Homo sapiens: one gene and its partners. The protein of the gene in region 3 purifies or fractionates together with the protein of the main gene of each other region. This does not show direct contact. Each region holds a gene or a part of one and is shown on either strand. Other genes may lie near its edges. The genes, in order: APBB2, HSPD1, QTRT1, HPCAL1 and APBB1.

Region 1 (5,973 bases), on a different chromosome or scaffold from region 3:
CAGAAATACCTAAATACTCATCAGCAGGGAACTTGCTAAATAAATCGTGGAACTTGTATATAGTGGAATAGTATACATAATACTTAAAAAGACTGACGTAGAAAAATGGACTGATCTACAAAATACGTTCTTACGTGAAAAAAAGCAAAGCATTCATAAAACAATCTAATTGGAGTAACTTTTTCCTGGTTTTAACTATTTATTGTGGCAAATTTTAAACATACAAAATTAGAGAATAGAATAATGAACCCGCACGTACCCATAATGCAGCTTTAACAATCAGCAGCTTATGGGCAATTTTGTTTCTTTTTTTATCCTTCTAATCCCAATTATTTTGGAGAAAATACCATACACAATATTGTTTCCATCAGTATGTGTTATACTGTATTATATATGTTATACTATGACATAGATTAGTATTTTATATTAGTATATATCTCTAAAACATAGGGATTCTAAAAACATCATCACAACATTTGGGTAAATTTTAAAATTGATTATTATTGTTTTTTTTTTTAATTTTAATTTAATTTAATTTTATTTTTAAATTTCTTTTGAGATGGAGTCTCGCTCTGTTGCCCAGGCTGGAGTGCAGTGGCACAATCTCGGTTCACTGCAACCTCTGTCTCCCAGGTTCAAGCAATTCTTCTGCCTCAGCCTCCCGAGTAGCTGGGACTACAGGCACGCACCACCACACCAAGCTAATTTTTGTACTTTTAGTAGAGACAGGGTTTCACGATATTGGTCAGGCTGGCCTTGAACTCCTGACCTGGTGATCCACTGCGCCTGGCCTAATTTTTATTTTTTGAGATGGAGTCTCGCCTGTCACCCAGGCTAGAGTGCAGTGGCGGGATCTTGGCTCACTGCAACTTCCGCCTCATAGGTTCAAGCAATTCTTGTGCCTCAGCCTCCCAGGTAGCTGGGACTACAGCCACCCGCCACCATGCCTGGCTAATTTTTAATGTTTTAGTAGAGAAGGGGTTTCACCATGTTGCCCAGGCTGGTCTCAAATTCCTGAGCTCAGGCCATCTCTCCACCTTGGCCTTCCAAAGTGCTGGGATTACAGGCGTGAGCCATCATGCCGGTCTTAAAATTTATTATTAATATGCGGATCTATGACTCAAACATTTTCTGAGAGGAAATAAAAACATAAGGTAATGGTCATCACTGGGAAAGGGGGCTGGGGTGAAGGGAAGAGGCAGCTTAATTATTCATTTAAAAATACATTTATGTTTTTTGAAACAGAGTCTCGCTCGATCACCCAGGCTACAGGGCAATGGCATAATCATGGTTAACTGCAGCCTCGAACTCCTGGTGTCAAGTGATCCTCCTGCCTCAGCCTCCTGAGTAGCTGGAACTACAGGCACATGCCACCGTCCACCATGCCCAACTAATTTTTTTGGAGGAGGAGAGATGGGGTCTTACTGGTCTTGAACTTGTGGGCTCAGGTGATCCTCTTGCCTCAGCCTCCCAAAGTGCTGGGATTACAGGCATGAGCCACTGTGCCTGAACAAAACTTTAGGTTAGTTTAAAACTTAACTACAACAGAACCGGCTATACCAGGAAGAGCAGCAGAAAGGGTGCCATGACCAGAGGGAGACAGCAAGGTGTCAGTAAACGCCAAACACAGGAAGTAGAGCTTGGCTGAAAGATGTGCAAGGAGTCTTTCATGTATTAATAGATTCAAACTCCAGCAGGTGACAATGTCTATCAGCTTCAGGATATGAATTCTCTAAATGGGTAAAAAGGATAGAGAGCTGTGAACTCAGGGACATTACTGAACATAATTATGATTCCAATAATGTGCAGGGCCAGACAGTTATGAGATGAAATGGCCTCATCTCAACCTCCCTACTGCCACATTCCACAGTAGTATGCATCATTGAAAGTACTGGGATTTTTAAAGGGCACTTCAAAAACGCTACTTTTTTTTTCTTCTTAAACAAGTTAATGTCTTAACTCCTCTTTTCCTTATCTTTAGTCCTTGTAATTTATCTACCTTATCGATTGTAAAAATGTGATTTCCTTCCCTGGTGGTTCTATCTATTTTCTTTGTTATATCTATATTAACACAGCCCTGGGACCCACTAGGGGAACTGCTGGACTACTTTTAAAAAATTAGCCTTTCTGAGTGCTTGTTTACGCTGAATTCAGATACAATAAGGTTCTCCACATTTTTCAATCTTAGAATCAGTATAGTGGGAGCTATAAGAAAATGATATTTAAAGTAGCTGACTTTTAGGATCCTGTTCATTTCTGTCACCATTTTAACACCTCCGACAAATCCAAAATATTACAAATATAGACAAAAGTCCAGAAAGACTGGTCTCAATTAGACTAGTTAAAAGTCTAAACTTCTGAATATATTTTTCAAGAAATACGATTTTCCCACTTTTAAATATTACTTAAGGCTAATAAAACACTCCTCAGTAAATGTCAAAAAGAGAAATGCCTTTAATGAACAGATGGCTAATGTTTTAACTTTTTATGCGCTTCACCATAAATAAGTTATTTTGAGGACTTTAAAATAGTTCTCTTAATTGGGTTATATCCTTCCCCCAACAACTTTGTTTCTTTTATTATTTTGCTTACCAAAACCCAGTATTTCTAGATAGCATATAGAAATGATCTACCTATGCACTGGAAGTGTAATTTCTAAATATATGATATTTTACTGTACTTAACACCAAGGATCTGTTTATTTTACAAAAATGCTTCCCAGAACAAACAACTTTATGCACGATCCAAAATGAAACTGACCTAAAATATGGTTGAGGAATGCAGTAATATTTTGCAAATAAATTGCCCAATTTTACCGCAAGAGGCTCACGTTCCTCTCTGCATAATGGACATTTTTGGTCAGTCTAGAGATTTACTCCAATAGTTGAAAAGATAAAAAAAAAAAAGTGCCAGCTGAGGCTACGCCTTCCCCAGGGGTACCTGTTTCATCCGGGGAGCTGGGTGAGGCACTGTCTTGGGACAACGTTGTCCAGCTGGACTCCTCATCGCTCGGTGCCAGGTTCTGGATCCGGTGCAGTGCACAGTCGGTTTTGGCCCCTGTTTTCGGATGATCCTTCTTGGTTTCTGGGCTGGATGACACTGTGGCTACTTGGCCGTCTTCAGGGCTGGACTGGGGTCTGTTTGGTTTCTGCAGCAGCAAATCGCCATTCCCAATGATGGTGGAGGCCTGGCCCTGGACTGGCTGGGATTTCTCTTCCGCAGTCCCATGGTGATTGCCTCGGTTCTGCTCTAGTTCTCTGGCTGAGGTTTCCAGATCTGCATAGTAATTTAGGAAGCTCTTAGTTCTCCTGGGCTGGGAGGGTAAAATCTCACAGCTCGAGGAATCCTGTGGGTGGGGCTCTTTACCCTCTAACTTCTCAGAAGTTATGTTGATGACTGCAGTGGGGCTCAGGTTTTTGTTGGGGTCCTGCTGCCCTTGCTCTGCAGCCTTACGGAGCTGGTTCTCCCCATTTTTCACCAGCTTGATGTTGGCAGAGCCATTTCCCAGCAGGGGCTGTGCAGCTGGATCCGAGAGGCCCATGGCCGCCTGGATGTTAGTTAGTGCATATTTTTTCCTGCATTTGGGAGGTGTGCTGTTCTTGGTTTCTGTGTGTTTTATTTCAGCGTTCAACAGTTCATTGTGGGAGGATCGGAGGTTAAGGGTGTTTGGTGGTGTGGCTGGGCTGTTCCGATTTGTGACGTCTGTAGTTCCGCTGCTGGCCATAAACACTGCCAAGGTGTCAACACCTGAGTCAGCTGGGGAAAAAAAAAGTCATTAGACACCTGCCATGATTAAACTACTTAGTATACAGTGTGAGTAAATATTTTTATATAGAAAACTAAAAGAAGAAATGCTTCCACTGCACATACATTCTCATAGAATGGACCCATTTTCCTCTTTATTTCACCATTTGTTCCTATATTAAACAGGAGCAAATAAAGGGCTTAACGTGGATAACCAAAAGCCAATTTATAGAAAAGCTAAGAAGTCTGAGGACCTAAATTTTACTTAAAATAAAAAAGCATTTCTCTTTGAATTCACATAAAAGCATTTTCTTCTGGTGGCTGGTCTTCATTTTTTACAAGCTTGAAAAATCATCCCCTTTCCAAATATTCCCACTACATTTTTATTCTTTGGTTCCTTCAGGCAACAACAAAAAATTGCTCAAGATTCCTCTGGGGCTTCAGCTTTCTTAATTAACCTGAAAGGTCATTGTTCAATGATGCTCCATACATCCAAGGTAATTTTTCTCAACCACGTTTAGAAACTGTGTTCTGAATGCCTGGAAAACTAACCCTCCATTAGAGTTTGCTAATGTCTTGGTGAACATTTTTGACCTGGGCTTACTGTTTGTACTAAACTGAAATTTTGAAGAAATGGCTTAATTTCTGAAGAACACGTACACACGCACACAAAACTATTACTGTAGCATTGAGCCCTTGGCTACAGACAACATGTTAGAGCTCCCAGAGGAGTCTGAATATATTCCACTGAATTAAAATACAGACTCAGCTGTTTGCAGTCATCACATGCCTCTGCAGAACTCCTAGGAAACTATCTGGCAACCGCATTTATCTCAAATATTGTTTGCGCCGTTAGTGATTTATTCTATATGTCTCTCGCTGGGAAGAAAGAAAGGTTTCTTAGACTAGAAGGGAATAAAATTCATCAGCAAGAATTCCTAAGGTTTCAGATTTCTCAATCTATGAGGAGTGACTTCTTTCTTATCTGATCCTTTTGCCCTCCACAGAGACTTTGGTGATCTCTACCTCAGCAGCAGATGAACCAAAGCACAGCTCCTGAAATTCCTGAAATTATATTCTGACAATTCCCTCTTCCTCCCCCAGGCAAAACAGGGATCTTTGCAGGAGAGAAGGGCAATAATTTCCTTGTTTGGGAGCTTAGAGGTATCTCTCCATCACCAAATACTTAGGTTGGGCAATTTTAGAAAAAAGTTGCTCATTCTAGAGTCCCTATGCTTCCAGGAAGCAAGGCAACATCAATCCTCCACTCTAGGCCATGGCCATTTTTATAACAGTATGACCATGTGGCCCATAAGAGAGTCAAGGGCTGTAACCCCAAGGGTTAGGATCTTGGGCCCCATTCTTTAAAGTTATTATTTATCGGGATTCCTTCTCACCTAGCACCTCACCTTAGCTCTTAGGCCTCATTTTACAGAAACAGAGAATGTAGTGTGGTTTTTCCTTTTTCAAAATTTCCTTTTCCTCCACCCAGTCCAATGGAAGGTTTCTGCCTTTTAAACAATACTCTTGACAATTAAATTAAAAAAAAACAATTTTTATTACCATTTGGCTACAACTATTATACCATTTTATGGGAAACATGTTTCAATTTATAATTTAATTTCACTCAAGAGTGGCATTTCATATGAGAAGGGCCTACCTGAAACCTACATGAAGTTTTCCCTGAGACACATATCCAGAGCATAGATACATGAGAGAAAGTTATTTTTAGACTCTTGGGTATTTAGAGTGAGATTATGAGAAAGTGCAAATCTGCTGTTCCTAAAAGGCATGGCAAAACATTTATATTAGGCTGCTTTATGATGCTAGGTACTATTATACATTCTAGCAATGTTATTAGGGAGATATTTTTATTTGCTTTGTTTATAATCATACATATTTTCAGAAAGAATACCATCAGAATTTCTAGGTGATTTTTAATATATAAATAACTTTTATATCCTCAATATGACAGATTAAGACTTCTAGCCACAGCCGGGTGCGGTGGCTCACGCCTGTAATCCCAGCACTTTGGGAGGCTGAGGCGGGCAGATCACCTGAGGTCGGGAGTTTGAGACCAGCCTGACCAACATGGAGAAACCCTGTCTCTACTAAAAATACAAAATTAGCCAGGCATGGTGGCGCATGCCGGTACTCAGGAGGCTGAGGCAGGAGAATCGCTTGAACTCGGGAGGTAGAGGTTGCAGTGAGACGAGATCGCCCCATTGC
Region 2 (5,302 bases), on a different chromosome or scaffold from region 3:
TCTTGGACTCAGAACCCAAGAAACTTATTCATAATAATGAATGTTACCTTCAGCACAGCCACTCCATCTGAAAGTTTTGCAAGCCGTTCATTCAGTTTTTCCTTTTCATATTCACTAGTTGTGACATCTAACTGCTCAATGATTTCTTGAATACGTTTTTCAATTTGAGCCTTGTCACCTTTTCCTTTTAAGAGCATGGCATCGTCTTTGGTCACAATGACCTCTCCAACTTTTCCTAAGTCATGAGGCTGAACGTCTTCAAGATTCAGGGTCAATCCCTCTTCTCCAAACACCTACAAAAAGAGTTAAACGTAAACCTGTTGTAGGTTACAGTTTCTGCCATTATACCAAGTTTATTAATACACCATGCAAGAGAATCATCAAAATACTTTATTTCTTTGAAATGAGAGATTTTAAGATCACTGTTAGTCCAGAACAAGACTTGAGTATAGTCTCTTTCACTGCATTTCCAAATTCTCAATTCTCACAACTGTGGTAATTATTACCAGCCTTACTTGAGAAAAAAACATCGAAGGTCACACTTACTGGTAGAGCCAGGACAAGACCATAGGCCTTGACTCTCAAGTCCTACATCCCTTGTAGCATACACTTCTACCTTTCAAAACTGAGCTCGGTAGCTCATGCCTGTAATCCCAGGACTTTGGGAGGCGGAGGCAGGCATATTGCTTGAGTCCAGAAGTTTGAGAAGCCTAGGCAATACAGTGAGACCCGTCATTACTAAAAGTAAAAAAATTAGCTGGGCATGGTACTGCACCTGTAGTCCCAGCTACTTGGGAGGCTGAGACGGGAGGATTGCTTGAACCCAGAAGGTGGAGGTTGCAGTAAGCCAAGATCGTGCCACTGCATTCCAGCCTGGGTGACAGATCAAGACACCCTGTCTCAAAAAAAAAAAGAAACCCCACAGATTTAAGTCAATAAGAATAGTCAATATAGATCAAGTCAAGAATAGTCAAGACAGATCAAGACACTGTCTCCAAAAAAAACAAAAAAAAGGAAACCCCCTTATTCAGTCAATAAGATTTAGTCAATATAGAATAGTCAGTAAGCTCATTCTTAGGCCAGACTTGTGGCAAATTAACGGGAATTTAATCCAACCCCTACCTTCCAAAGAGCCAAAAGAAACAGATAGTTGTAGTATCTAATTGTGAAATGTTAAACTATCTATAAATTCCAGACAAGTATAAACATTCAGCAAACCATTATCACATTTATTTTACTTACTGCACCACCAGTAGCAATAGCCATATCTTTAAGCTGGTTCTTTCTATTGTCACCAAACCCTGGAGCCTTGACTGCCACAACCTGAAGACCAACCTTTAGCCTGTTAAGAATAGTTGATAGTAAGATTTAAATGAAATAAAAATGCCTATCTGTTTAATTCCCCTCAAGCTGTTACTAGATTACTTAGGACTCCCTAAGTAATCTGGTTTGGTTTTTGTGTTTTTTTGTTTTTTTTTTGCTTCCTAGCAATTTTTGATCAAATTAAGACAGGAAGTATCTGAGACAGTTTAGGCTATTTTCTATTAATTATACTTGTCCATATCCGTTTACCTTCTTAATAAACTGTTGGCCTGGCCGGGCGTGGTGACTCAGGCCTGTAATCCCGGCACTTTGCAAGGCCCAGGCAGGTGGATCACGAGGTCAGGAGTTCGAGACCAGCCTGGCCAAGATGGTGAAACCCTGTCTCTACTGAAAATAACAAAAATCAGCCAAATGTGGTAGCAGGCACCTGTAATCCCCACTACTCAGGAGGCCGAGCAGCAAAAATCACATCACAGTAAGTTATAGGATACAGTGATAACTATTATGAATGGTAGAAAAACAGTAATTACTAAATATTACATTTGAGGGTCATTTAATAAACATCTCCATATATTAATGCTGAGTTTTGAATGAGCAATGTTCTGAATTCACTTCTTTTATAAATGTTATACAAAAAGCTGACAGTATTGTTAAGCTCACCTGAAATTTTTACCAGGTAAATGAATACTTGGAATGTGTAATCAAATGTCCATTTGAGAGCAGATTGTGAAACAGAAGCAACGTTCAAACTTCAAGACAGCTGGTCTATTTTATTAAGGACCCAAATAAAAATCAGAGGAATAAGCTATATGCTATGTAAACTGGATATCCCACTTTTCAACTAGCAGTAAAATGGCTTAATGAAAACTCTGTAGGCTTGTTTTTTTCTGGCCTCAAGTCTTTTTTTTGTGTGTTTTTTTTTTTTTTTGAGACAGAGTCTTGCTCTGTCGCCCAGGCTGGAGTGCAGTGGCGAGATCTCGGCTCACTGCAACCTCCGCCTCCTGGGTTTACGCCATTCTCCTGCCTCAGCCCGCCACCACGCCCAGCTAATTTTTTGTATTTTTAGTAGAGACGGGGTTTCACCGTATTAGCCAGGATGGTCTCCATCTCCTGACCTCATGATCCACCCGCCTCGGCTTCCCAAACTGCTGGGATTACAGGCATGAGTCACCACGCCCAGCCAAGTCTTTTCTTAATCCCTCCAAAAAAGCAAATCCAAGCTAAGAAAAACATTCCAGGGTAAGGCAGCTCATTAGAGCTTTTGGGTCAGATGAGCACGTGTAATGTCTAAAACGTACCTGTTAATGTATGCATTTCTACTATAACAAAATGGAAAGAAAAGTCTTGCTTCTGACATACTTCAATTCTGAGATAAGGAAGAACAAACATTTTAATAATGCCCTTAGATTGTCTGCAGCATGAACATTACCTGTCTTAAAGTTTAAACTAATAGTAAACTATAGCTTAAAATGTAGATTTAAATAAGTGACTAGACCTCACCTTATTTTAGATTGGGTGCTATTTTCTCTACTTCAGACTATTTAGTAAACATTTAACAACAGACTAAATACTTGATCACAGCCAAGGGTAGTGGCTCATGCCTGTAATCCCAGCACTTTGGGAGGCTGAGGTGGGAGAATCACTTAAGATTCACCAACAGTTTAAGACTAGCCTAGGCAACATATTGAGGCAACATATTGAGACCTCGTCTCTACAAAAAAATTAAAAGATCAGCCAAGTGTGCTTGTGCAAGTGTGTAGTCCCAGCTACTTGGGAGGCTGAGGCAGGAGGATTGCTTGACCCCAAGAGTTCAAGGCTGCAGTGAGCTATGATCGTGCCGCCGCAGGCCAGCCTGGGTGACAGAGTCTGTCTCTCAAAATAAATAAAAATATTCGATGGTGAAATACACTTACATCTGAGTTATTTATTTAGAGACAGAGTCTCGCTTTGTTGCCCAGGCTGGGGTGCAGCAGCACAATCTCGGATCACTGCAACTTCCGCCTCCCAGATTCAAGTGATTCTCCTGCCTCAGCCTCTGAGTAGCTGGGATTACAGGCACACGCCACCATGCTCTGCTAATTTTTATATTTTTAGTAGAGACGGGGTTTCACTATGTTGGCCAGGCTGGTCTGGAACTCCTGATCTCAGGTGATCCACCCGCCTGTGCCTCCCCAAGTGCTGGGATTATAGCTGTGAGCCACCATGCCTGGCTCTGAGTTATTTGGAAGTTAGTTGTTTACTTCCCTGTTCTATGCAAAATAATATTCTGAAAATTTACATATTTTTAACCAGAAAAACCTTAAAAAAACAAAACAAAACAAAACAAAAAACAAGATTGACACTTGAACCCCGGAGGCTTGAGCTGAGATTGAGCCACTGCACTACTGCACTCCAGCCTGGGTGACAGAGACTCTGTCTCCAAAAATAAAAATAAAAAATAAAAAAATTACAAGGCCGGGCGCAGTGGCTCACACCTGTAATCCCAGCACTTTGGGAGGCTGAGGCGGGCGGATCACGAGGTCAGGAGTTTGAGACCAGCCTGGCCAATATGGTGAAACCCTGTCTCTACTAAAAATACAAAAATTAGTCAGGTGTGGTGGCACGCACCTGTAGTCCCAGCTGCTTGGGAGGCTGAGGCAGAACTGTTTGAACCTAGGAGATGGAGATTGCAGTGAGCCAAGATTATGCCACTGCACTCCAGCCTGGGCCAGGGAGTGAGACTCTGTCTCAAAAAAAAAAAATACAAGATTCAGTCATGTGCCTTCAAAACAACTGTAAACACTTGCAAAATACAGAAAGGTACCCATGTGCTAAATTAGTCTATTCTATGAGAAAGCTGATCAAAATAGTAAAGACTTTGGGGTTCCTTCAAAAACACAACCATAAGGATACATTAGAGCACACCTGATTTACACAATTACAATTCTAGATACAAACCCAACTGGATCAAATGTGGAGGTACACATGATGGAAACTGCAAACAGCAATACAAATAATTCTGTCTTTCACCGAGAAATATAAATCAACAAATACCACTGCTTATTACCTATTCAAGACGAGTGTACTTAGAGCTTCTCCATCAACATCTTCAGCGATTATGACCAAAGGCTTACGGTGAGCATTGGCAATTTCAAGAGCAGGTACAATGGACTGGATACTAGAAATTTTCTTTTCACTCAACAGAACATAGGCATCCTGGAATTCACATTTCTGACCTGTAAAAATAATGAAGATTTCAAAAATATACAAAAAATGACTGCAATACATTTAAATGAAAAGCGAAACCAAGGTTCCAATACACTTTAAAATTCACCAGTGAGTTGGTTTTCCTCCTTCATTTCTCATATGCATTAACTTTTGGAATATATACATTTATTTTTTAGAGGATGACACCAACTAATACCTATAGTTTGACACATATTAGAAAGTATATTTTAAAAACTTCAGGAGGCCAAAGCAGGCAGATGACTTGAGGCCAGGAATTCAAAACCAGCCTGGCCAACATGGCTAAACCTTGTCTCTATTAAAAAATTCAAAAATTGGCCAGGCACAGAGCCTCATACCTATAATCCCAGCACTTTGGGAGGCCAAGGTGGGTGGATCACCTGAGGTCAGGAGTTAAGAGACCAGCCTGGCCAACATGGTGAAACCCCATCTCTACTAAAAATACAAAAATCAGCCTGGCATGGTGGCGTGTGACTGTAATCCCAGCTACTTGGGAGACTGAGGCAAGAGAATCACTTGAACCCGGAAGGCGGAGGTTGCAGTGAGCAACGCGCCACCACATCATGCCACTGCACTCCAGCCGGGGCAACAGAGAATGAGACTCTGTCTAAAATAATAAAAATAATAATAATTCAGTTATTGATTTGTTCTTACCTTTTGATGTATTAATAAAGTATGGAGAAATATAGCCTCGATCAAACTTCATGCCTTCAATAATTTCTAATTCATCATTCAGTGTTTTTCCATCCTATGA
Region 3 (5,973 bases):
GCAGGTGGCAGCTCCCGCTCTAGGGGCACGCCCTACATGCTGGGCACTGGCAGGTGGTTTCCAGCTATCCGCTGCTGCCACAGTGACGTGTTATGATTGGTGAGAAGGGGAGATATTCCACTGCAATGACGCTCAGACTGGGAGGGGGACCCAGACAGGCCACTTCCTCAAGAAGACACAGACACACTCTGTAAGTTACAATAAAAAAAACCTTTCAAAAAGGAATCCTTCAGTATCTTCCAGCCCCTCCCTCCCTTCCTTCCTCCCTCCCTCTCCCAATGCCAGGTCAGCCCAGTGTGATTCCCACAGAGGCCAGAGCGTCAGTGGCCCAGGTGGGACAGAGGGTGGGATCCCCGTACATGGCGCCCATGAAGTCCCGCACGAAGTCCGGGAAGCGCTTCTCCACGATGCTGGTGCGGACGGCGCTCATGAGCTGCAGCTGCGGGGAGGGGAGGTCAGCGTGGGGCATACGCACCTAGGACACCCCCGCCCACCTTGCCCCGGGCACTGGCTCACCTGGTAGGCGATGTTGTGGACCGTGAGGTGGTGCAGCGCGGCCGTGTTGTCACTGTGCAGCAGTGCGTGCAGGAAGGCGCGGCTGTGCCTGTAGAGCGGCAGGGGACAGCTCAGCACGGCCAGGCCCTGTCCCCTCCATGCCCTGCCCCAGCTCCCAGTGCCATCCTGCCTACTTTTGGCACGTGGGGCAGGTGCACTCCGGGTCTATGGGGCCGAAGTCCTTCTCAAACACCTTCTTCCTCAACTGCAGGTTCCCAGTGGGCACCAGGGCAGAGCCAAAGCGCTGTGGGAGAGGAAGGGCAGGGAAAGGGGCGTCACCCAGGGCTTCATTCTCCCCACCCCCCACCCCTAACCTTGCCTCCCTAGTCCCCCACCCGTCTCCCGCCCTGACCTCCTTCTGCCAGAGCCTCACCGCTGTCCGTGTGGGGAAGACGCAGTCGAACATGTCACATCCAAGAGCCACGCAGACTACCAGATCAGTGGCATAGCTGGGGTTGCAGCCATGACGGGAGGGGGCAGAGAACCTCAGGGGCTTCCCAGGGCCCCTCCCAACCCTCACACTGCCCCAGACTGGGCCATATTCCCTCAGAATGGCCCCCAAGGGACAGCCATGTCTTCCTAGTCTCCTCAGATCAGACCTGTGTCCGTTTCCCCCAAATGCCACCTCCCCAAGCAGGGTAGGGGGTCCCCAGGAATCCACTTCCCACAGGTAGGGCTCTGGCTTCCCTATCCACAACATACCCAACCCCCATCAGATATCGGGGCTTGTCCTTCGGCAGCCGAGAGGTGCTCAGCGCCACCATCCGCCAGAACTGCGACTTGCTCTCACCCCCGCTCAGGCCCCCGATGGCGAAGCCAGGCACGTCTCGCTTGGTCATCTCTGAGGGTACAGGGTAAGGTGAGGGCCACAGAAGAGGAAATGCGCCTGGTCTTCAATCCCAGAACACACCCTGCCCAGACTTCCAGAGTCGCTCAGGGAGAGAGTCAGAGAAACAGACAGAGACAGACAGACAGAGCCAGAGACGGAGAGGGAGACGGAGAGGGAGACAGAGGAGAGGGTCCATCAGTTTGTCTGTCTGTCTAGGGGCTGGGACTACTGCTGATCTCAGCTAACATTTATTGAGTGCCTGCTGTATGCAAGACCTTTTCCTTCAGTACTCAGAAGAGGCACAGCCCACAGTCCCTTAGCTGAAACTGTTGGAACCAGATGTGTTTCAGAATTCAGAGTTTTCCAGATGTGAGAACAGTAAACATCCCACATGCTGAGTAACAGCTGTCATGTTAGGCGCAGTGGCTCACGCCTGTCATCCCAGCACTGTGGGAGGCCGAGGCAAGCAGATCACTTGAAGTCTGGTGTTGAAGAACAATCTGGCCAACATGGTGAAACCCTGTCTCTACTAAAAATATGAAAAGTAGCCAGGCGTGGTGGTGCACGCCTTTGGTCCCAGCTACACAGGAGGCTGAGGCAGGAGAATCGCTTGAACCTGGGAGGCAGAGGTTGTAGTGAGCCAAGATCACACCACTGCACTCCAGCCTGGGTGACAAAGTGAGACTCCATCTCAAAAAAAAGGGCCGGGCGCGGTGACTCATGCCTTCAATCCCAGCACTTTGGGAGGCCAAGGCAGGCAGATTACGAGGTCAGGAGTTCGAAAGCAGGCTAACCAACGTGGTTAAATCCTGTCTCTACTAAAAAATACAAAAATTAGCCAGGTGTGGTGATGGGCACCCGCAGTCCCAGCTACACAGGAGGCTGAGGCAGAAGAATCGCTTGAACCCGGGAGGTGGAGGTTGCAGTGAGCCGAGATCAGATGACTGCACTCCAGCCTGGGCGACAGAGCGAGACTCCGTCTCACAAAACAAAACGAAACAACAACAACAACAAAACACCCAATAGCCTGTCATCAAACACTGTAATATTTGTACAACAAAATATGTTAAGACTTGGTGGAGGAAAGGGGAGTGAGAGCATTAGGACAAATACATAACGCATGCGGGGCTTAAAACCTAGATGACGGGCTGATGTGTGCAGAAACCACCATGGCACATTCATAGCTGTGTAACAAACTTGCACGTTCTGCACATGTATCCCAGAACTTAATTTTTTTTTTTTTTTTTTTGAGATGGAGTTTTGCTCTTGTCATCCAGGCTGGAGTGCAATGGCACCATCTTGGCTCACTGCAACCCTCGCCTCCCGGGTTCAAGTGATTCTCCTGCCTCAGCCCCCCGAGTAGCTGGGACTACAGTCGCCCACCACCATGCCCGGCTAATTTTTTGTATTTTTAATAGAGACAGGGTTCCGCCATGTTGGGCAGGCTGGTCTTGAACTCCTGACCTCAGGTAATCCGCCCACTGCAGCCTCCCAAAGTGCCAGGATTACAGGCATGAGCCACCACGCCCGGCCAAAGTAAAATTTAAAAAATAAAAATAGGCTGGGCACATGGCTCACGCCTGTAATCCCAGCACTTTGGGAGGCCAAGGCAGGTGGATCACGAGGTCAGGAGTTCGAGACCAGCCTGGCCAACATGGTGAAACCCCATCCCTACTAAAAATACAAAAATTGGCCAGGCGTGGTGGCTGGTGCCTGTAATCCCAGCTACTCGGGAGGCTGAAGCAGGAGAATCGCTTGAAACCAGAAGGCAGAGGTTGCAGTGAGCCGAGATGGTGCCACTGCACTCCAGCCTGGACAACAAGAGCAAAACTCCATCTCAAAAAAATAAAAAATAAATAAAAATAAAAATATGTGAATACTTGTAACAACTGGGATAAAAAATGAGAGATCTAAGTTAGCCATGAAATGAGTTGCAAATTTTTCAGGGCATTCTAAGTTTTTTCTCTTTTCTTTTCTTCTTTTTTTTTGAGACAGGGTCTCACTGTGTTACCCAGACTGCAGTACAGTGATGTCATCATAGCTCACTGCAGCCACCAACCCCTGGGCTCAAGCGATCCTCCCACCTCAGCCTCCCAAGTATCTAGGATCACAGGCACACACTCCCATGCTTGCGTGCTAATTTTCTTTTTTTCTTTTTTTTTGAGACAGATTCTTGCTCTGTCGCCCAGGCTGGAGTGCAGTGGTGTGATCTCAGCTCACTGTAACCTCCACCTCCCGGGTTCAAATGATTCTCCTGCCTCAGCCTCCCGAGTAGCTAAGATTACAGGTGCCCACCACCATGCCTGGCTAATTTTTTTTTTTTTGAGATGGAGTCTCACTTTGTTGCCCAGGCTGGAGTGCAGTGGCACAATCTCGGCTCACTGCAAGCTCTGTCTCCCAGGTTCACGCCATTCTCCTGCCTCGGCCTCCCGAGTAGCTGAGACTACAGGCGCCCGCCACCACGCCCAGCTAATTTTTTCTATTTTTTAGTAGAGATGGGGTTTCACCGTGTTAGCCAGGTTGGTCTCGATCTCCCGACCTCAATGATTTGCCCGCCTCAGCCTCCCAAAGTGCTGGGATTACAGGCGCGAGCCACCACGCCCGGCCTAATTTTTGTATTTTTAGTAGAAACGGGGTTTTACCATGTTGGCCAGGCTGGTCTCGAACTCCTGACCACGTGATCTGCCCGCCTTGGCCTCACAAAGTACTGGGATTACAGGCGTGAGCCAGCGTGCCTGGCCCAATTCTCTTTTTTTAGAGATGGGATCTCACTATGTCACCCAGACTGGTCTCAAGCAATCCTCTTGCCTTGGCCTCCTAAAGTGCTGGGATTCAGGTGTGAGCTATGGTACCCGGCCAATGTTCTGGATTTTAGACTTTCGCTCTGAGGACCTGGATGACACAGAAGGGGCTGCAGAATTGTGCTATTGTTCAACTTGCCTGAAACAAGAGGAAATTGAGGCTTGCAGAGCTTAAACCACTAGTCCAAGGCTACATATGCCAAAGGCTGGATTCAAACCTGGGTCTGGCCTCCAAGTCCAGGCTTATCTTGTGCCCCAGCTGCCCAGTTCAACCCGAAGAGGCCATGCCATCAAGAACGCAGGTGTTGGCCAGGTGCAGTGGCTCAAGCCTGTAATCCCAGCACTCTGGAGGCCAAGGTGGGGGTGGATCACGAGGTCAGGAGTTCAAGACCAGCCTAGCCAACATGGTGAAACCCTGTCCCTACTAAAAATACAAAAATTAGCCAGGCATGGTGGTGCATGCCTGTAATCTCAGCTACTCAGGAGGCTGAGGCAGGAGAATCACTTGAAACCGGAAGGTGGAGGTTGCAGTGACCTGAGATCACGCCACTGCACTCCAGCCTGGGCAACAAGAGCGAAACTCCGTCTCAAAAAAAAAAAAAAAGAAAAAAAAAAAAAGGAATGCAGGCGTTGTCTGGGGCCAGGTTTTGAAGGTAATGTGAGCATCCTCCAACTGGACACAGGGTGTTTACATGCAGATTCCTAGGCCTTCCCTAGCTCCAACTCTGGTCGGATCATGGGAAGGGGAGCTGCATTTTACCAGGACTTTCAGTAGTTTGTGCTGGGGCAGGTAAGCCTCAGAGCACTTTGAGAAGCACCCCATGGGGCGGTGCTTGTCAAACTGCAGGTGGTTGAGAAATGACTTTGATGACGCACGGGTTGTTGTCGTTGTTTTTAAATGAAAGAGAAAAGAAAACACCAGAAAGCATTGCATGTAAAAGGTAATGCATGGCTGGACACACCGGCGTGCACCTATATTCCAAGCACTTTGGAAAGCTGAAGCAGGACTGCTTGATCCCAGGAGTTTGAGGCTGCAGTGAGCTTTGACCTAGCCACTGCACTCCAGGAGGAGCAACAGAGTAAGACCGTGTCTCAAAAATAAATAAAGAGGCCAGGTACGGTGGCTCACGCCTGTAATCCCAGCACTTTGGGAGGCCGAGGCAGGCAGATCACAAGGTCAGGAGTTTGAAACCAGCCTGGCCAAAATGGTGAAACCCTGTCTCTACTAAAAATACAAAAATTAGCCGGGCCTGGTGGCGGGTGCCTGTAGTCCCAGCTACTCAGGAGGCTGAGGCAGGAGAATAGATTGAACCCGGGAGGCGGAGGTTGCAGGGAGGCAGAGGTTGCAGTGAGCCGAGATCGCGCCACAGCACTCCAGCCTGGGCGACAGTGCAAGACTCCACCCTCCAAAAAAAAAAAAAGTAAAATAAATAAATACATAAATAGGCTGGGCGCGGTGGCTCATGACTATAATCCCAGCACTTTGGGAGGCCAAGGGGGGTGGATCACCTGAGACTCCGTCTCAAAAAAAAAAACAAAAACAAACAAACAAAAAACCTAGAAGATCATTAACTACTGGAATCATGGCCATTCTCTCAATACATTCTACTGCACGTGGCCCGAGAGCCTTTGCTCCGGCTATTTTTTCTAGCGCAGTGCCCTTCTACACATTAGCAATCCAGTCCCGCCATACGCCAGGCCCATGTGGGGACCTCCGCGATGGCCAAGCCCTGGGCCTGCCAGCGCATGGCTCTACCTTCAAGGCAGGTGGCCCGGAGATCTGCGTCC
Region 4 (5,973 bases), on a different chromosome or scaffold from region 3:
GGTCTTTCTTGGCCAGGTTGCTACCTGGTGCACTTTGGAAAGTGAGCAGTTGTCACCTGATTGGGCAGACCCTTGCAAAGGGCAATGGTAAAAGCCAATGTTTATTGATCACTTGCTATACATCAGGGCCGGGTGGAGCACTTTGATCCGTTTTCATCTTCATAACCCAACAACGTGGGTCATTCTCTGCATTTTACAAAGTCTGAGACTCAAATAGATGAATTTCTAAAAATTATATTTTATATATATTTGGAGATGGAGTCTCACTTTGTCGCCCAGGCTGGAGTGCAGTGGCATGATCTCGGCTCACTGCAACCTCCACCTCCTGGGTTCAAGAGATTCTCCTGTCTCAGCCTCCCATGTAGCTGGGATTACAGGTATGTGCCACCGCAGCCAGCTAATTTTTGTATTTTTAGTAGAGACGAGGTTTCACCATGTTGGCCAGGCTAGTCTTAAACTCCTCACCTCAGTTGATCTGCCTTCAGCCTCCCAAAGTGCTAGGATTACAGGCATGGGCCACCGTGCCTGGCCAAGAATTGTATGATTGCTGGGCTCCTTGGCACTTGCAAGAGGTACCTGCCAAGACCTGGGGAAAGCCCTGGATTTGAGAACTCAACAGATAGCTTGTGATGTCCCCAGGAATGCGCAGTCATCAAGTAAAACTGAAGCATTAACGATCACGAGAATCAGCTCAGCACGGGAAAGACGTCACTTTAGGAGGCATCTCTTCACCTTCATGCCTATCAACAGCTCTAGCAGAAAGGCCATGTTTCAGAAGGAAACCAAGTTTTGTTCACTTGGCCAGGTGCCTAGGTATGCGAGAGAGAGTAGAGAGCAGAGCTGCCCCTCCCTGGCATTCCCCTGAGTGCCTCCCTGAGCCCAGGAGCATCCAATTCTAGAACTCATGGCCAGGCCTGTAATCCCAACACTTTGGGTGGCCGAGGCTGGAGGATCGCGTGAGCCCGGGAGTTTGAGACCAGCCTGGGCAATATAGTGAGACTCCATCTCTATAAAAAATTAAAAGAGTAGCAGGGCATAGTGGCATGCACCTGTAGTCCCAGCTACTTGGGAGGCTGAGATGGGAGGATTGCTTGAGCCCAGGAGTTCAAGGTGACAGTGAGCTGTGATTGCACTGCTGCATTCCAGCCTGGGTGACAGAGTGAGACCCTGCCTCCAAAAAGACCAAAAGCAAAATAAGAAAAAAATGGAACTCTTCAGAAGGGGTGGTCCCATGGTAGGGAACTTCAGGGGTGGGCCTCCAGTAGCGGGTATCAAATCCGTGAACTTCTGCAGCAGCAGTGGCCCGCCTCAGGAATGAGCGACCCATTTCCCACGTAGATGGTTTTCACACTGTCAGAGTAAATTAACATGGGCTCGGGGAACTCTGGTACTGTCGTCACTTTCTGGCTCTTAGCTTCATGCAGTGGCGGAAGTAAGAATTCTATTCCCCAGGAATCACCCGTCCTGTCCTGTGTGTTAACCCTTACCCTTTGCAAATAGGTGTGCCTGTCACTGGCCGTGCAGAGGCTTGGTCAGAACATCAAGGCACTGGTAGAACTGTTCCAAGCAGTGAGGAGCAGCCACTTCTGTCCAAACGGGACAGCCCCCAAACCAAGTCCCCAAACCCTGAAAGCCTTCCCCCGACGCCATCGATGGCTCCCTGGCCGGCTGGGTGGTGTTTCTCATGGGACACTTGGTTGCTACCTCTTTCTCACAATGAGAAAATGGTCTGTTGTCAGGAATGAGAATATCAAGCCACCTTCACGTGGAGTGCTCAGAAAATCCCACAGCAGTGCCACCACTCCCCACGCATGTCACTCTGCTCAGTGGCCACTCACCAGTCCCATCACCGTCTCCTCTGTACACCCACCAGCAGCACAGAGTCACATGCCCCAGGCTGGGCCACTCAGGCAGAGACACGCAGAGAGACCAGTGGCTAGACTGAGCCCTCGGCTGACAGTGCCCTAAACAGGCCATGGAGACCCCAGTGCTGCTGCTTCCTGTCCTGTCGGGGCTGGTGATGGGGCTTGCCCTGTGAGTTTCAGGGACTCAGTCTCTTTTAAACTGAGGGGTAACAGCCATGGAGTAAAATGCACACAGCTCAGCAGGCAGTGTGGGGAATTTCACACATCTGTGACCACCACTCTCCCTCAGCATTCCCAGCCCCCGACAGGGACACTTAGGCACCTTCCTGGCACTACCCACCCCCAGGCAGAGATACCAGCACCCTCACCACCCTCCCAGTAGAACCCTTCTGCCAGCTCTGCTCTTGAACTTCACATAGACACCCGTGAGGTTCACTAGGGAACATTCTCCCCACTGGGGAAGGGTCCCGAAGGCCACCGGGAGCCCCTGACCTCTCCGAGCCTTGTTGTGGGCTGGGCGGAAGCCCACCCTTGCTGCACCCGCCCAAGCCCCCGGGCCTCTGAGCACAGTGTCATTGCCCCCATCCGCAGGCCATCTACAAGATGGTGTCGTCTGTGATGAAGATGCCGGAGGATGAGTCCACCCCGGAGAAGCGCACAGACAAGATCTTCAGGCAGATGGACACCAACAATGACGGTAGTGCGGGGTGGGGGCGGGGCTGCATGTGTACGCCACGGTAGGGGCAAAACCATGTGGTTTGGGGCACCCCCTCCCCTCTGCAGCTTCTTGGTCTCCTGAGGGCCACCCCCGCCCGCCACCTGCCTGGCGCCTGCCATGCCCAGGGAAGAGCGGGATGCAGTCAGGGACACCCGTGCTGTATCCTGGCTCCTCTGTGCAGCTTTGTGATGCTGGGCATGTTGTGGCCTCTCTGAGCCACTGTCTCCCCACTTATAGAATCGGGCATACCCATATTCCCGTGGGTACAATGTTTAGGGGCAGGGAGGCAAGCATGCTGGTGGCCCTGAACCTGGAGGGGTTGAGATCAAAGGATCCCAGATGTTGGGGTCCTGGGGTGCTGGCCATGCCTCTCTTGCTGCCATCCTGAGAGAAGAAGCTGCCCAGATGGCCCCAGTGTCCAAGGGGAACTGTCAGGATGTACGCTGCCACCTTGTCCACCTACAGCAGCTCTGTGGAGACTCAGCCCCACTGCAGAAGTGCAAGTCTCACGATGGTGGGTGGCAGCAGTGGTGACAGGGCTGTGCCTCGAGTGCCCTCCTCTGCATTGGCTGTGAGGTGAGGGCGGCTGTGCGGCCCTCCCATTCTGCTCTTCTTGCCGGCTTTGTCAAGAGCAGCCACAGCACCAGGTTTGCTTTGCTTTTGAGCAATAAAGAAACACGACCTTAAGAAGAGAAAATACAGGCTGGGCGCAGTGGCTCACGCCTGTAATCCCAGCACTTTGGGAGGCCGAGGTGGGCAGATCACGAGGTCAGGAGATCGAGACCATCCTGGCTAACACGGTGAAACCCCGTCTCTGCTAAAAATACAAAAAAATTAGCCAGGCGTGGTGGCGGGCGCCTGTAGTCCCAGCTACTCGGGAGGCTGAGGCAGGAGAATGGTGTGAACCCGGGAGGCAGAGCTTGCAGTGAGCCGAGATCGCACCACTGCACTCCAGCCTGGGCGATAGAGTGAGACTCCATCTCAAAAAAATAAAGAGGAAATACTCCCTGGGTTGTGCTGGGGATTAAACGATAAGCTAATGCCCAAGAAGCTGCTCTGCGAAGTCTGGAGTGCAGCCCTCGGGTGAGTTAAGCATGGCCCCAGCGGGAGACGGGATGTGGGGGAGCTGTAAGCAGCAAAGAGCATTCCAGGCAGCCAGGTCACAGTTTCAAAACACACACACACAGAAAACAAGGCTGCCTGGTGCCTGGCGTTGCCTTTGGGCTGATGGGAAATGTGTGTTCCACCCTCCAGCCTAGCAGGGCACCTGCTGCCGCTCTCCTGAGGCTGTCCGCTCCTCGTGGGGATGGTGAATCCGGTCCCATGGGGTTGTGAGGTTTCAGCGAGATGATGCCTTAAAGCTTTTAGCAGGGCTTGCACTCCACAAATAATGGCTGTTGTTCCCAACTTCACAGTGTCCCTGGGGAAGCCACCCATGGTCACTCGCTGCCCGAATCTGCCTCCTGGCTTGGCCCTGCCCACCTCTTCAGAGGGCATCTTCTAGGTTGGTTGGGAATTTGGATGGCATGGTCGTTGCTAATGTGCCTGCTGGGATGGAGCACTTCCTCCTGTGAGCCCAGGGGACCCGCCTGTCCCTGGAGCTTGGGGCAAGGAGGGAAGAGTGATACCAGGAAGGTGGGGCTGCAGCCAGGGGCCAGAGTCAGTTCAGGGAGTGGTCCTCGGCCCTCAAAGCTCCTCCGGGGACTGCTCAGGAGTGATGGTGCCCTGGAGTTTGCCCCAACTTCCCTGGCCACCCTGGAAGGTGCCTGGCTGCTCCAGGCCTCTAGGCTGGGCTGATGGGTTTCTCCAGGACACAAGTATCATTAAAGCCACCCTCTCCTCAGCTTGTCAGGCCGCACATGTGGGACAGGCTGTGCTCAGCAACCCCCTCGCCTGCCCTGCCCTCCATCAGGAGGAGCCAGTGGAACCTTCGGAAGCTCCCAGCATCTCAGCAGCCCTCAGAGTCGTCCTGGGGCAGCTCTGGTTCTCCTGACTGGAGGTCCATCTGGGCTGGCCTGCTCTCTCTCGGCCTGAGACAGGAGGGCCTGGGGTCAGGAACTGGAAGTGGGGAGGCTGGGGCCGTGGACTCTGAGGCCCCACACCTAGCCAAGGAGATGACCACACAGCTGGCTGCCCTGAGTGGTCAGAGGTGGAGGGTGGGGAGCCACTCTCTCCATTGGCAGAGGTTCCTGGGGACTGTCTGCTGAGGGCCTGGCTGTCCCTCCCTCTCCCTACCCACCCCTTAGCCCGGGCATTGTTTGGGCTCTCTTGGGGCCAGCAGGCTGCCCAGGCCCCAGAGGCATCAAGTTCGTGCCCTGGAAGAAGCCAGCCTGCCCAAGCCTGGGCCAGAGTCCCATGAGGACAGGTGTCCCTGCCTGCCAGTGGGCTGGAGGGGCTGAATTCCCAGCAGGGCCCTACTGTGCAGGGGCATCCTCCGTCCTGGTGCTGGTCTGAGTCCTCAAATGCATCCTCCCAGGTGCCTTTGAGATGGGTGTTCCCATTATCCCACCTTCGAGACGAAGATCCTGAGACCTGGAAACGTTGGTGGCTTGCCATGCGCCAGAGCCGAGAGCCCCTCCTGCATGCCTTCCCCTGTGCTGGGCCTGGCTGCATGCGTCTGTGTTGCCTGCACAGACATTTTGCAGGGTGCCCTAGTGATTCCAGCTGACAGCACAGAGCCTCAAACAGACACATGGAGGGGCTGCCCCAGGACCAGGCCGCCAGGACGCAGCCAACCTCAAACCTCATCCTTCCCCACCAGCTGGAGCCAGAGGGACCGCCTCCTGCCCTTGAGGCCATGTCTGAACGGGCAGAATCCTTACAGCCTATCCTGCTTGTGGACTAGCAGAGCCAGGGCTATAGTGACCACAGTGTGAGCTCATTGACAGCGGTTATGGGATGGGGAGCGGAGGGTCAGAAAACCTCACCCCACCCAGCTCAGCCGATCAGCCTTACGGAGCCCTGCCCTAGGCCACGAGCCTCCAGAGGCCACTCAGCCCAGTGTGGAGTCACCGAGTCTGTGTCCTGGGAGAGGGAATATGTTGTCACCAGCATTGGATGCGGAGGATGAGGGGGCAGCTGATTCCTTAGCACGACCAATCTTTTTCTAGGTTTTCCTCTCACCGCATGGGGCCAAAACAGTACAGAGCATGAGTTTGGTACCCCAAGCCTGAGCAGCGGGTCTACGCTGATGCCAGGGAGGATCCGGACCGTGCTTCCGGGGGCCCCCAACCAGCATGGCCTTCTCAGCCTGGATTCTGTATGGGTTAGAGGCAAATGCTTCATTTTTCTGCACAGTGTACACGTTCCTTAATAAGCGAAGTGTGGGGTGATTTCTAAAAGGATTTAAATGGCCCTCATCAGCCACGTCCTGCTGAGCTTGCTGGGTAA
Region 5 (5,973 bases), on a different chromosome or scaffold from region 3:
GTTTTGCTAGGGCCCCAGGGCCCACATTTGGGAAAGTTCTTGATGTAGGAAAGGGTGAAAAAGCCCAAATGCTGCTGTGGTTCAACCAGGCAAGATCATCCGGTGAAAGAACCAGTCCCTGGGCCCCAAGGATGCCGGGGAAACAGGACCTTCTCCTTTCCTGGAGCTGGTTTAGCTGGATATGGGAGGGGGTTTGGCTGCCTGTGCCCAGGAGCTAGACTGCCTTGAGGCTGCTGTCCTTTCACAGCCATGGAGTAGAGGCCTAAGTTGACACTGCCCTGGGCAGACAAGACAGGAGCTGTCGCCCCAGGCCTGTGCTGCCCAGCCAGGAACCCTGTACTGCTGCTGCGACCTGATGCTGCCAGTCTGTTAAAATAAAGATAAGAGACTTGGACTCCAGACCCCTGTGTGACTGTCCCAATTTCTTCTTTCCAGGCAAGCAGGGCAAGGAGATCTTTGGAGCAAGATCATAACTGAGGCACAGGCTAATGGGTTGATGGTGTGGTACAGGCATAAGAAGGCACACAGCAGTGCAGACAGACTTTATTAGTGATATCAATACAGCAGAGGTGCCCATGGAGCAGGGGGAAGGGACCCATGCCTGGACCAGTCCCTTCCTCCTTCTGCCCCTGCTGGGTCCAGGAGGATGAGGCCTGGCCTGGACCAGTTCCTCCTGTTCCACCTGAAACACATGGGGATGGAGAACCAGGGCTGGCCTTGCTTCCTGCTCCTCTTGTTACCACTCCAGTGTTATCACTTCCTTGAAGGGATTAGATCTCTCCCTCCCCAGCTCCTAGGCAGGGAACCGTAGCTACTGGGGAGGGGCATATTTGGGAGGCCTGAGGCCTAGGAATAGCCTCTAGACCCCTCCCTGACCCACACCCTTTAGTTCCCTGGGGCCCAACACAAGCAGGTGGAGGGAAGGTGGGGGCTTCTTCATGGGGTATGGGCCCCCAGCCGTTTGGGCTTCAGGGAGCCCCACAGCGACTGAACACCCCTGCGGACAGTCCACCCTACACGCCGTGCCACAGACTCAGCAGGGGGTGCTGGGAGGCAGGAGGTGGAGGCCTGGGAACGGGCATCCAGACACTTCTGGTAGCGAAGCTGCGGAGGCAAGCAGGGCAGTCACTCCCCAGCCTACCTCCCATGGGGCCACGCCACCACCACACCACCCTACTAGTAGCTTACCATGCACGCAGCCTGCACAGCCTCTGAGAGGCTGGCAGCATTGGGCTCGCACCAGAACATGTGGCAGCAGAAGGAGGCTGGGCCGGCAGCCATGATGAATGCAAACGTGTGGACATCTCTGCCCACGGCCAGGAAGGAGAGGAAACGCACCCGACACTCTCCCAGCACTGCCTCTGTCTGCATGGAGGGAACTCAGTTAAAAAGGAACACCAACCCCACACTGTGTTCCACATCCATCTTAGCAGCTCTTCCCCTCACCCCCAGTCTCCCCTCTATGGCAAGGCGCAGCCACGACTTCTACCCCAGCTCTTTACCTGCTGGTGCAAGATGGTGAGGGTAGCAGGGGCCACACTGACATGACTTGGGGTCCATTGTTCACGGCTGCTGGAGGACAGGACTGACTCGAGGGCCCCATTAATCACATCTACCCCTAGAACATATGGACACAAGATACCACTGAGGGTAGACAGAGGATACCCCAGCTCTACCCTGGACCTCTAGTTCCACCCAATCAAACCCAGGGCCTTTGCCCCATCCCCACTTTGCCAGCCTACATTTTGGACAACGCTGTCCAAGTATCCCTTCCCTGGGGCTCTCCTCCCCTGGCTTCAGTAACTGGACATTTTCCTACTTTTTAAAATCTTGGATCCTAGGCTCGTTATTTTCACCGGCTCTGCCTATTCCTCCACACTTCTGAACTGACTGACCTCTCAAAGTTCTGATTTCCCCAAATCATGCTCTCTCAGCGCTCATCACACTCAGACATCACATTGCTTCACACCACAATAACTCCCAAATCAGACCCTACAGGCCAGTCCTCTCCCAAGACCCAATTATTTTTTAAGATATCTATCTGAGGAGTGATTACTCTGTATCACATTGTGCTAAGTCATTACAGTGTATTACCTCATTTGTGCCCACACAACAACATCACAATAGATTACTTTATTTCCATTTTACAAATAAGGAAACGGAAGAGATAGGTAATATGCCTTAGGTCACATCGAGGAATGGGGACCTGAGCTCAGGCAGTCTGATTCCAGAGCCTGGGTTCTTAGCCATGCCTTTCTCCTACCTCTTCTCTATATTACTAGTTTTCAGAACTAGAAGGGCTTTCAAGATCTTAGTTCTACTCAAGAATGTCTATAATGTGCTCAAGAGCCAAGGAACCCAAGGTTCCTGACTTTCAGATCAATCAACTTTCCCTTATAACACATGGCCTCCTCCACCTCAAACTGCTGTTAAACATTTCCCCTCATGGATCCCACTTTTGCTTGCACTCAGCAGAGCACCAAGGCAGGAGCACATGTTGTGGCAAAGGCATCAGTTCTAGTCCCCACACTCATACGCTGGCTGTGTGATCTACTGTCTCTGCACAATGCCAGTGCAAAAGGCACATGCCTCTGTGGTCCACTCCCAGGCCCTCTGCCCCTTTTAGTGGCTCTCAGCTCCCACTAGGAGCAGACCACGTGGACTCTTTTGGGCAGAGGACAAATGTCTTCCTTGCATGTCTTCTCCCATCTTGGCCTTGCTCATCTGACTTCTAGCTGGATCAAGGCCAAACTGCTCCCAAAAGCATACAAGTCTTCCAAAAACTGGCCTCACCAGAGCTGTCAAGCTTCATATTTTACTGCTCCCTGAGCTTCAGATGATTTGTGTAGCATTATTATTAACAACTAATCTTGGCAAATGGCCTGTAAAGCAGATGGGGAATACAAAGCAAGAGAAGAGAATGCCCTTGAGAGACACAGACTGCAACTGAGGGAAAAGCCTCTGTCTTGAGTGCCCTTTCCCTGCTGGACTGAGAAACTTCAGACTGTCATCCTTCAGGGCTCCAACTAGGTGCTGTCTAGGAAGCCATGCCTGCTGCAGGGCAGGGAGAGGACAACTCTGAGACAACTCTTACCATAACGTCTTGTAACTGCTGGAAAACTTTTTTCCACACTGGGCCGTGGCCATCTCAAGAACAGAAATGGAATTTAATTCATCCCTCTGTCCCCAATTCTAACACAGGGCTTATCTGCTGAAGAAATTCCAGATGCATGAGCAAGTCACTCTCAAGGCAACAAGGGCAAATGCACCCGAACTGGTAAAACCAAGTGTCACAGAAGTGGATGGGCCAGGTCAGATTGCAGAGTGCTTCAAAAGCCAGGCAGAGGGGTGTGATGTTTATGACATTTAGGCCAGGGCAATTGGAAATCTCAAAGTTCAGGTGTGTGAAAGGGACATCATAGTCAAACTGCTGAATAGATGGGGCTGTGGGAGATGGAGCCTGGCCTCAGAGTCTTGGGAAGTTTGGCAGGGAAGCAGTGAAAGCAGTGGACCAAGGTATGGAAAAAGGCTGTCAGATTTGATAACTCAGGACTAAAACCTACACTGTGACCTTGACCTCCAGCCCCACATGCAATCCCCCTAATCCTGCTGTGCTTTTCTCTTCTTTTTTTTTTGTATCAGTTGTTGCCTTCTAACATACTCCATGGTTTACTCATTTTATTGTCTGTCTCTCCTTGCTAGAATGTCAGCTAAATAAAAGCAGGGATCTTTGTCAGTTTTGTTGATTAATGCATGCCAAGAAGCTAGAATAGTGCCTGACATGTATCAGGCATTCATTACCACTTGTTAAATAAATGAATAATTAATGAATGAATATTGCAGCTTCTGGATGGGCTAATGTTTAAAAACGAGCATAAGATAAAGCAGGAAGTAAGTTTAGAGACCACTTGTCCAAGCGGAGCAGTCAAGGGTCACAGGCAGTTGATCTGGCATAGGGAGGACCAGAGTCAAGTGGTAGATGGAAAGAAGCACATATGGGAATGGGGGTAACAAATGGAAGAGCCAACAAGGGTTTAGAAGTTGAGGACGAGAAGGAGGAAAGCAAAGGCGTAAGGGTCAGCATGCTTTTCTCACCTCCAGCTCCAAGTCTTTGGCAGTGCCATCGAATCCAAATGAAATACCCACTCCACTCTGCAAATCCAAACCTTCTTTCAAAACCTCAGTTCAATCCCCACCTTTTCTAAGAAGGGTCCCCTCTTTCAATGTAAGATTTTGGACGTGAAAGTCAGCACGGTATAAGGGAAAGTGCAGAGAATTAAAGATGACCGGGGTTTGACTCCCAGGTCTAGCTTTCCTGGCCATGTAATCTGAAGCAAGTCTCATTTATTCATTAATTCATTTTTTATTTCATTCATCAAACATTTGTTGAGTTCTTCCTGTGTGTCTTTTGACATGATACCCTACCACTTCTTTTTCAAGTAGCCTCTTTTCTTCTTCCTGCCTCTCTCCAGTTGTCACTATCCTTGGCAGTTTCATCCTCTACACATCCATTGAATGTTGGAGGGCCTCAAGGCTATGACTAGCTTCATTTCCCTTCTCACTTCAGGATGCCCACTTTCCAGGGCCAAGCTACTCTACATCCATGGCTTTGATTACCTCTACAACCCAATAATGCCAAAACTCCTATCTCCAGCCCAGACCTCTCCTCTCAGCTCCAGATCTGTGAATCTAACTGCCAACCTGACTTTGCCTCTCAGATTCCCCAAAGGCATCTCAAACTCAGCATGTCCAAAAGTGAGCTCACAATCTCTACGCTCAAATTGGCCTCTTCAAGCATCTGCCACCTTGAAAGAAATAATCCACTATCCAGAAGGTCCAACAGCCAGGAACTTAGGAGTCATCCTTGTCCCTCACCCACATCGAACCAATCACTGAGGCCTGTTGACTATACCCGTCTAAACAGCTCTTGAATCCACGCACTCTTCTTCAGCTCCATTGTTGCCCAAGATACTCTCATTACTGGCCAGGACTACAGCAAGAGCCTCCTAACTGAGCTGCTCACATCCACCTCCACCCACTTAACAGTCCCCTCCATGAAATAGCCAAAGTGAGCTTTCAAAATTCAAATCTGATTAAGGCAAGTGCACTCTCGGAGACTTCAATAACTCCTTGCTGCCCTTAGGATGAAGAAAAAATCATTAACATAGCCCCTGAGGTCCCTGACCTGGCAGCCTGACCACTGCCCAGCTGTCGGCCTCATCTTGCATTGGCCTTCTTTCAGTACCTTGGAAATGCCAAAGTGCCTCCCACTGTAGACCCTGATCTTCCCCCATCCCACCCCCACCTCCATTCCACTTGACCGCATTCACTTCTACTTATTTTTTGGATTTCAGTTCAAATGTCACTTTCACAGGGAAGTCTTTTACAACCTCAGACTAGATGAAATTCCTTTGTTATATCTTGCTACTTTCTCTCAACGAATAACTCACACATTTATTTGTGTGATTATTTTATTAATTCCTGGTTTTTTTCTACCATAACCTTCTATAACCTCTAGGAAAATGGGACTGTGGCCACTGTTCTCCCTGTGCCTAGTCCAGGGCCTGCCACATGGTAAGCTTCAAAGGTATTTGTTAAGTGAATAAACAAATAAATAGCAGACACTAGGAAAGCACTGAAATATAAGAGTTAACCAGATCAGGCCAGGCACAGTGGCTCACGCCTGTAATCCCGGCACTCTCAGAGGCCGAGGCAGGTGGATCACTTGAGGTCAGGAGTTCAAGACCAGCCCTGGCCAACACAGTGAAACCCCGTCTCCACTAAACATACAAAAATTAACCAGGCGTGGTGGCGGGAGCCTGTAATCCCAGCTATTCAGGAGGCTAAGGCAGGAGAATTGCTTGAACCCAGGAGGCGGAGGTTGCAGTGAGCTAAGATCACGCCACCGCACTCCAGCCTGGCGGACAGAGCGAGACTTGTCTTTAAAAAAAAAAAAAAAAAAATTCTTTGCAA

Evidence for each region.
Region 1: the proteins of QTRT1 (region 3) and APBB2 purify together in Homo sapiens (affinity purification with mass spectrometry; 3 studies listed by BioGRID and IntAct, with this or other methods). This does not show direct contact.
Region 2: the proteins of QTRT1 (region 3) and HSPD1 purify together in Homo sapiens (affinity purification with mass spectrometry; 3 studies listed by BioGRID and IntAct, with this or other methods). This does not show direct contact.
Region 4: the proteins of QTRT1 (region 3) and HPCAL1 purify together in Homo sapiens (affinity purification with mass spectrometry; one large-scale study listed by BioGRID and IntAct). This does not show direct contact.
Region 5: the proteins of QTRT1 (region 3) and APBB1 purify together in Homo sapiens (affinity purification with mass spectrometry; 3 studies listed by BioGRID and IntAct, with this or other methods). This does not show direct contact.

Annotation. Positions count from the first base shown.
Region 1 is NC_000004.12:41,010,643-41,016,615, forward strand, and holds part of APBB2 (amyloid beta precursor protein binding family B member 2), read right to left. Parts: intron 3,757-5,973; coding exon 2,941-3,756; intron 1-2,940. UniProt on the Homo sapiens protein: Plays a role in the maintenance of lens transparency, and may also play a role in muscle cell strength. Involved in hippocampal neurite branching and neuromuscular junction formation, as a result plays a role in spatial memory functioning.
Region 2 is NC_000002.12:197,488,955-197,494,256, forward strand, and holds part of HSPD1 (60 kDa heat shock protein, mitochondrial), read right to left. Parts: intron 5,297-5,302; coding exon 5,203-5,296; intron 4,539-5,202; coding exon 4,370-4,538; intron 1,343-4,369; coding exon 1,243-1,342; intron 294-1,242; coding exon 48-293; intron 1-47. UniProt on the Homo sapiens protein: Chaperonin implicated in mitochondrial protein import and macromolecular assembly. Together with Hsp10, facilitates the correct folding of imported proteins.
Region 3 is NC_000019.10:10,707,584-10,713,556, reverse strand, and holds the end of QTRT1 (queuine tRNA-ribosyltransferase catalytic subunit 1), read right to left. Parts: coding exon 5,942-5,973; intron 1,397-5,941; coding exon 1,258-1,396; intron 1,005-1,257; coding exon 929-1,004; intron 800-928; coding exon 690-799; intron 605-689; coding exon 517-604; intron 440-516; coding exon 287-439; 3' UTR 192-286; downstream 1-191.
Region 4 is NC_000002.12:10,420,527-10,426,499, forward strand, and holds part of HPCAL1 (hippocalcin-like protein 1), read left to right. Parts: intron 1-2,456; coding exon 2,457-2,562; intron 2,563-3,998; coding exon of another isoform or gene 3,999-4,087; exon of another isoform or gene 4,088-5,973. UniProt on the Homo sapiens protein: May be involved in the calcium-dependent regulation of rhodopsin phosphorylation.
Region 5 is NC_000011.10:6,394,598-6,400,570, forward strand, and holds the end of APBB1 (amyloid beta precursor protein binding family B member 1), read right to left. Parts: intron 1,619-5,973; coding exon 1,503-1,618; intron 1,366-1,502; coding exon 1,189-1,365; intron 1,105-1,188; coding exon 937-1,104; 3' UTR 528-936; downstream 1-527. Other genes in the region: SMPD1 (sphingomyelin phosphodiesterase isoform 1 precursor), read left to right, coding at 1-10. UniProt on the Homo sapiens protein: Transcription coregulator that can have both coactivator and corepressor functions. Adapter protein that forms a transcriptionally active complex with the gamma-secretase-derived amyloid precursor protein (APP) intracellular domain.